Homo sapiens: one gene and its partner. The main gene of each other region encodes a partner of the protein of the gene in region 2 in a complex. Each region holds a gene or a part of one and is shown on either strand. Other genes may lie near its edges. The genes, in order: MYO7B and CDHR2.

Evidence for each region.
Region 1: CDHR2 (region 2) and MYO7B share a complex: the UniProt entries of both Homo sapiens proteins name them as parts of the IMAC/intermicrovillar adhesion complex.

The regions. Positions count from the first base shown.
Region 1 is NC_000002.12:127,533,981-127,537,890, reverse strand, and holds the start of MYO7B (unconventional myosin-VIIb), read right to left. Parts: upstream 2,209-3,910; 5' UTR 2,060-2,208; intron 1-2,059. UniProt on the Homo sapiens protein: Myosins are actin-based motor molecules with ATPase activity. Their highly divergent tails are presumed to bind to membranous compartments, which would be moved relative to actin filaments.
Region 2 is NC_000005.10:176,547,380-176,551,289, reverse strand, and holds the start of CDHR2 (cadherin-related family member 2 precursor), read right to left. Parts: upstream 1,949-3,910; 5' UTR 1,876-1,948; intron 1-1,875. UniProt on the Homo sapiens protein: Intermicrovillar adhesion molecule that forms, via its extracellular domain, calcium-dependent heterophilic complexes with CDHR5 on adjacent microvilli. Thereby, controls the packing of microvilli at the apical membrane of epithelial cells.

The DNA of each region.
Region 1 (3,910 bases), on a different chromosome or scaffold from region 2:
CCGCTAGCTACTCCATTCATTCATTCAGCATGTGCCAAGTGTCCATTCTCTGCTGAGGCCTGGGCATGTGCAGGAGATGGAAAAACCCCAGAGAAACCCAGCCCAGGCTCTCGAGGAGCTCATAGTCCAGTGGCCTTGGTCAAATCCTTCCTTCTCCTCCTCCTCCTTCTCCTTCTCCTCCCCCTCCTCCTCCTCCTCTTCTTCTTCCTCCTCCTCCTATTCCTTCTTCTTATTCTTCTATAGAGATGGAGTCTCCCCATGTTGTGGGCTCAAGCAATCCTCCCACCTCGGCCTCCCAAAGTGCTGGGATTACAGGCATGAGCCACCACCATGCCCAGTCTCCTTTACCCTTCTTCATCTCTTCTGTGAAAAATGTGCTAAGATTCTGGCTCTTCCTCCCTGAACAGCTTGGTATGTGGACCAAGAATGGGCACACAAACATCATTTAAATACATGTGTTAAGTAAAATGTATGGAGGCCATTGGTTTTGTCTGAGCTCCTACACAAGGCCAACAGACCAGACCAAAATGGAGTCACTCATGCTGAAGTTCCACACCACCAGGCCCAAACGAAGGTTATCTGACCTTCCAAGAATCAGGAGAGAGACAATAGCTGGAGCCCCAGACAGGCCAGTTTCAGCGGGCATGATAAGGAAGTTCCCTCAGCTCTATCCTTTACAAGGAAAATAAATTGAAATGACTAATCCCCTTTTGTTTTCTGTTTCTCTCAGCCCCATTCTGTCTATAAAGCCAAACTCCTCTGCTCGGCTCATCAGATCATTCATTGTATTCTATAAGTGGGGTGTTGCCCAATTCTAGAATTGCAAATAAAAGCCAATTAAGATCTTTAAGATAAATTTTTTATAATTTTGTCTTTTGACATATGTAAAACAGGAAGCAATATCAACACATATAGGTCATCCCTGTGGTGCCGCCTCTCCACAGAGCCCCGTGCTAGAGCTGTGGATGCAGCAGGCCCCAAGACAGCCGCCTGGGGAGGATTCTCTTAGAGGTGGCATCTGAGGACAGACGTAGGGCCCCCAGCAGGTCCAGGGAGATGGGGTGGGCTGATGAGCTGAGTGGTTCCTAACAATGATTCACTGAGGGTGTGTGTGAATCTCTGAACTAAAATCCTAAACAAAGTGCAGGGTTCTGATAAATTAGAGCAAAATTCAAGTCCAGGGTTACAAAGTGGAGCCTGAAGGGGAGGCCTCGTCATGGAGAATTTGGGGGATCTGGGTTGGGGGCCCCACACCCACCAGCTGTCTGACCTGGGCCAGCTCTCACAATCTCTGTGTCTCAAGTTTCGTCCTCTGTGAAATGGGGATGGGACACACACCACCTGGACAGCTCAAGGGGGACAGCCCATGTGAGCCCCGGTGCGGTCCCTCTCCTCAGCCACCTCTTCCCCCACCCCCCCCCCCACCACACCCCAGACCTGTCCTGCCTCTCCCTAGGGTCCCAGCCTTCCAGAGGTGACTAAAGCCAATTGCCCAAGGTACATGGGTAAGGCGGATAAGCCTGGGCTTTGGAGTCGAATCCGGCTCTGCTTCTTCCCGTGGGCACCTTCGCTTCCATGGTCCTCAGTCTCTGTGTCCATAAAATGGAGGCAATTCCACCACTGTGTTGCGAGGACGCAGTGGGATGTCACACACGGCACAGCTGACATCTGGCAGGGGCTCATCATGGGACCCAGGCTATCCATGATGTCCCATGATTCCACAGTGAGGCCCTCTAGCTGTGAGGAGGCTTCAGGGTGGGAGCAGCCTTGGCACCTGCCGTTCCCCTCCTGCAGGGAGTTTGCCCTTCTACAGCAGAGGGCTAGACAGCTTCTCCCCCTCCTCCTCCTCCTCAGCCCCCCAGGTGCTGCCCTTCAGCCCGATGGACTGAGTCCCCTGCTGCGGTTTCTGGTTTCCAGGCTCCTGAAGGGCTTCTCCACTCTCTATCCCTCAGACCTGTTCCATCTTATTTCCAGGGGACCTGCCTCCTGCCCAGCGACCCTCTTCAGAGAGGTGACCCCCTACTCCCCGCTGGCAGACACGCCCCCGGCACGCCCTTACCTTGTCAGGATGGGGGTCTGGCTGACTCCCCTTCCCCTCCACCCTGGGCACCCTGAAAGAGCCAGGAAAGGAGGCAATGTTGGGACTCCGGGTGTGTCAGGGAGTAAGGGACAGAGGAAGAAGAGGTAGGGCTCCAAGAGGAAATGACTGGGAGCACTCTGGGCCCACGTAATTTATTACAGGACTTTGTCCCTGGGCTCCAGGCACTTCCACTCCCACACGCCTCCCTCAGCCCCAGCTGGCAGAGCCTCATGATACCTGCTCTTTAACCCAGGCCCCTTCTGCAGAGCAGCGATGCATGCTGCCCGGAGGCCACCAGGGTTTGCAGTCTGTGCACCTGCTCTGGCCACCAGCCAGATCCCATGGTGACAGTCAGCTGACCATCCGGGGGCTCAGCATCTTCCCAGGTGCTGCATGGCAGGAGCTCTGCCCCCAAGCACCCCAAGCTCTAATTGAGGGTGGTAGTATAATATAAAATACAGTATATTTGGTCCTTGTTCCCGGTTGGTGTCACAGAACTCCTAAAACCCTTAGAATTTCCAAAGTGATCGTCGGGCATGGTGGCTCACGCCTGTAATCCCAGCATTTTGGGAGGCCGAGGCAGGCGGATCACAAGGTCAGGAGATCAAGACCATCCTGGCTAACACGGTGAAACCCCATCTCTACTAAAAACACACACACAAAAAAATTAGCTGGGCGTGGTGGCGGGCGCCTGTAGTCCCAGCTGGAGGTTGAGGAAGGAGAATGGCGTGAACCGGGGAGGTGGAGCTTGCAGTGAGCCAAGATCGGGCCACTGCACTCCAGCCTGGGTGACAGAGCGAGACTCCGTCTCAAACAAACAAACAAACAAAAAATTTCCCAAGTGATCATCTCATAATGAGTCCGTTTGATAACACCTGAAGTTATGCTGAGGAGGTGACCATGTGGGGGCCCTACCTAGCCTCAGCATGGGGTCAGTCACCAGAAAGACCTAGTGAATAGAGGGTTGGAACTTTCAGCCCCGCCTACTGACCTCTGGGAAGGTAAAACTCTTGAACAAGATTTGACAAGCTTCCACACATCTGAGGTCCCTGGGGGGTGGCATGCGGGAGAGGGCATGGAAGCTCCATGACCTTCCCACACAACTCACCTGTGCGTGTTTATTCGGCTGCTCATCTGTAATCCTTTGTAAAATCTTTTCCCACGAACTGGTCAATATGAGTGCCGTCCTGAGTTCCATGAGCTATGCTAGCAAATCCAACCTCAGGTGTGGGGCATGGGAACCCCGATTTATAGCCAATTGGTCAGAAGTATAGGTGGCAACCTAGGACTTGAGACTGCATTTGAAGTGGGGCAGTTTTGTGGGACTGAGCCCTTAACCTGTGGGATCTATGACTCCAGGTTGACAGTGTCTGATTGAATTGAATTATAGGACATCCAGACGGAGTCTGCTGGAGAACTGCTTGGACACCTGGTCAAGAGAGTGTTCTGTGTTGAGTGTGAAAGGAGCATACACCTGGGACATGTCTGGGGCCATCAGGAAGCCTTAGAGACAAAGGCCATCAGACAACAAGGTTCCCAGGAGGGTACCTGGCAACAAATTGGGCAGGCTTGGGCTGGCACTTGATCAAGGGGGATTTGGGCTTAAGGCAAATACAGACTGTTTAGAAGGGAAGTGCAACCGCAGTGGGCCCTGGGTGGGGTCAGACTGGAGGGGCCAGGCAGTCCCTGGAAGTGAGCAGGAGGGCGAGGGGAGCTCATTTATGCAAGGCTTTGAAGGCGGGTGGATAATAGGGGCAGGTAGTTACCTGGTCAGCCACAGGCCTTGTGTTGGGTAAAAAAGGGGTCTGGTCATCCTTACAGTTGGCCCAA
Region 2 (3,910 bases):
AGGCTGAGGCAGGAGAATCACTTGAACCAAGGAGGCAGAGGTTGTGGTGAACTGAGATCGCACCACTGCACTGGAGCCTGGGCGACAAGCAAGACTCCATCTCACAAAAAAAAATTAGCCAGACGTGGTGGCGTGCACCTGTAATCCTAGCTAGTCAGGAGGCTGAGGCAGGAGAATCGTTTGAACCAGGGAGGCACAGGTTGCAGTGAGCCGAGATAGCGCCTTGCACTCCAGCCTGGGCAACAGAGTGAGAATCCGTCTCAAAAAGAAAGTGCTTAGGGAAGGACCAAAAAGGACACAGAGAAGAATCAGGGAGACTCTGGCCCCCACGCCATGAGATGTGTAGTCTCCAGGAATCCTCACTGGTCCCACCTGGCCCAGGAGGTGCCAGCTCTTCAGCCTTGGCTGAGAGGAGGCTTCAGCCGCATCTCAGAGCAGTCCACGGTGCCAAGATTTTCTAGAATTTGGAACCACTGGGAGTGAGGATACCCGGACTGCCCAGGACCTCCAGGAGGGTCAGGGTGGGGAGGTGGGTCCTCCTTCAGTGTGGGGAGCCCCCGGGGTGCACTCAGCCACGATGCTACAGAGCTCCCCCAGCACCGCCACCGCTACACGGCCAGCTCGCCATGCACTTTCACTTCTGCTTTTTCATTTACTTCTCACAGCTGTTCCCAAGCAGGAATTATCCTATCCTATTATTCCAAGGAAACCGAGGCTCATAGATGCCCAGAGATGGGTGAGCCAGGGGCAGCAGGTTAGACCCAGGCTGCCTCCAAATCCAGGGGTCCCTGGGCAAGCCTTGGTCTGGGCTCCGTTGATCCAGGAGGCCGTGCCTGCACCCACAGAGCGGACTCCAGCCGAGCCTGGGTGCCCGGAGCAAGGATGTGGGACCTGAGCACGCAGCTCCCCGCCACGGGCCCTCCCAGTGCCTATGGCCCAGGCCACCTGGCCCAGCAGACACATACAGACTCAAACAGCCCTGGGTTCAGATGGCAGCATTTCACATATTTGTTGTGCAACCCCAGGCAAGCCCTCTCCCCTCTCCAGGCCTCAGTTTCCCCTGCTGAGAAGCAGAGTGAGGATAAAAATCAAGGGGTCTACACACGGGCCATGACTTGTTTCCATCTGCCGGACCTCGGTGCTCACTGGGACCCTGCCTTGTGCCTGGTGCCCAACCCAGCACAGGCCTGCCTGAGTGACGCAGCATGGCCCCGACTCTCAGCTGGGTCACCACCTCCTCTACCAGGGCAGAGAGATGTGCAAGGCCCGGACTGGGCAGAGCTGGGGCCAGCCTGGGTCAGTCCCTGCCTGACACTTCCTAGCACTGGCTGAGGTGGCACTGGGCTCGGTCATAGGCCACATGCTCACCTTTGCCTCAGGGCTTTTCAGGCCCTTTCTGGAACTCTTCTCATCCCCATTTGATAAATGAGGAAACGGAGGCCCAGAAGAGTTAAGTAGCCCACCAAGGTCAGGGTGGAGCTGGGATGTGAACCGAGCAGCTGGGGTAAGAGCCCAGGTCAGCTTCCCCGTCCTCAACCCCTGAGCATCCTATGAAGGGGTCAGGCCAGTTACCTCGTTTCCCTGGGGTGCCTGCCTCCCTTCCATCCTCTGAAGAATCATCCCTTGAGGACTTGGATGGGAAGGGGGCCATCAGCCCCCAGGGAAGGAGGTATTATTATCCCATGTTTACCAAAGAAACAGGCCTCACAGCAGGCTGGGACCTGACCCGGCTCTGCCCCATCTAGCGTGTGACTTCCCCTGCCCAGCTTCAGGGGAGACTTTTAAAGACCCCCAAGCTTGCCTTGGCTCTAGGGATCCCCCCAACCCCCACATTTCTCTGGCCCAGAGACCCCCGATGAGCTGGATAGTCCCTACCTGTGTCCCCTTCGCCACGGAGGCGGCAGGCAGGCGCCGGACAGGCGCTGGCACACAGGTGGGCACCCTCTGCGGCCTGCAGCTATGTGGCCAGCAGACTTTGGCACCATCTCCACCTCCACTGAGCAATCATTAACCCTGCCAGAGACCACACCTCCCAGGAGGGGTCGACTCCTAATGAGGCAGAGTACAGCTGGGGGCGCCGGACAGGAGGAAGGGACCAAGGCGCCAGAGCTCCTGGCGCTCCTGGGGCTGGAGGCCCACACCACAGGAGAAGGGGCCTGGCCGACCCTGAGCCCAGAGGACCTGGGAACAAGGCCCAACACTGGGGCAGGCTGGAGGCGGGGACGGTGACAGTCAGAAGGTGATGCCAGAGCCCCCGTCCCCTCCCTGCTACGAGTCTTCAGTGACAGGGGATCTGTGGACAAGTGGGGGATTGAGTCAGGAGAGGGAAGTGGTAAAACAGTGTAACAATCAAACACTGTGTGGCCAGACCAGCCCCTGTGAGGTTCTCGTGGAGGACTGGGGGCTAGCTGAGCCTGGACAACCCACTTTCGAGCCTGTTGACACTGATCTCACCCCGCATTGAGACCCTCAAAAGGCATCTGCCCGTCCCCAGGGGCTTCATCCACTCCCAAGTTGCCTTTTTTTTTTAATTATTTATTTATTTTTGAGTCAGAGTCTTGCTCTGTCACCCAGGCTGGAGTGAAGTGGCACAATCTTGGCTCACTGCAATCTCTGCTTCCTGGGTTCAAGCAATTCTCCTACCTCAGCCTCTCGAGTAACTGGGATTACAGGCGTGGGCCTCCACACCCGGCTAATTTTTTTTGTATTTTTAGTAGAAACAGGGTTTCACCATGTTGGCCAGGCTGGTCTCGAACTCCTAACCTCAGGCGATCCGCCTGCCTCGGCCTTCCAAAATGCTGGGATTACAGGGATGAGCCACGGAGCTCGGCCCCCAGGCTGGCTTTAAGCGCTGCCCGATGTGGTGGCCTCCCGAAGGGGCTCAGCCACAAGTCCTTCTTATCCTCACTTTGGCCCAGCCATCACAGTTGACACAGAAAGGGGACCCTGGGCACAACTTTCTTAAGGCACACCACTGAGTCGTCACCATTGGGTGGCCCTCTTCTTGTGGGCAGAGGACATGTCTAATTCACAATAGATATATAGTCATGCACCATATATCTGTGTTTTGGTCAACAACGAACCACACATATAATAGCGGTCCCATAAGAGTATAATATCATCTTTCATGGCACCCTTTCTGTGTTTACATGCACAAATACTTACCCCTGTGTTACAGTTGCCTGCAGCGTGCGGTACAGTCCCAGGCTGCATAGGTTAGCAGCCCAGGAGCACAGGCGGTGGTATAGAGACTGGGTGTGTAGTAGGTGGTACCGCCTAGGTTTGTGTAAGTCACTGTGTGATGTTCACACAATGACGAAATTGCCTGATGACACATTTCCCAGAAGGTGTCCCCGTTGTTAAGGGTTGTGTTGACTGTATATCAGGCAGTTGCTATAGTCAGGCATTTTAATAGTTTGCTTCCCAACTCTCCAAATGTAAAACATAGTAACAAAATTTATACGCCACCAGCATAAAAAGAAGAAACCCAGATGAAGGGAAGTCAAGTGAGAAAAATAAGGGTAATCTACGCCTGAATTGAGGCCATAAAATACTTGTCTTGAGCTGGGGGCACTGCTGTGCACCTGTAGTCCCAGCTACTTGGGAGGCTGCAGCAGTAGGATGGCTTGAGGCCAGGATTTCTGTGCTGTAGGGCACTATGCTGATGGGGTGTCCACACTAAATTCAGCACTAATATGGTGAACCCCAAGGAGCAGAGGACCACTAGGTTGCCTCAGAAAGGCTGAACCAGCCCAGGTCAGAAACAGAGCAGGTCAAACTTCAGGTGCTGATCAGTAGTGAGACTGTGCCTATGAATAGCTACTGCACTCCAGCCTAGACAACAAGAGCTTCTCTCTCAAAAAATAAACAAATTATATATATATATATATTTGCCTTCAAGTTCTGGGTA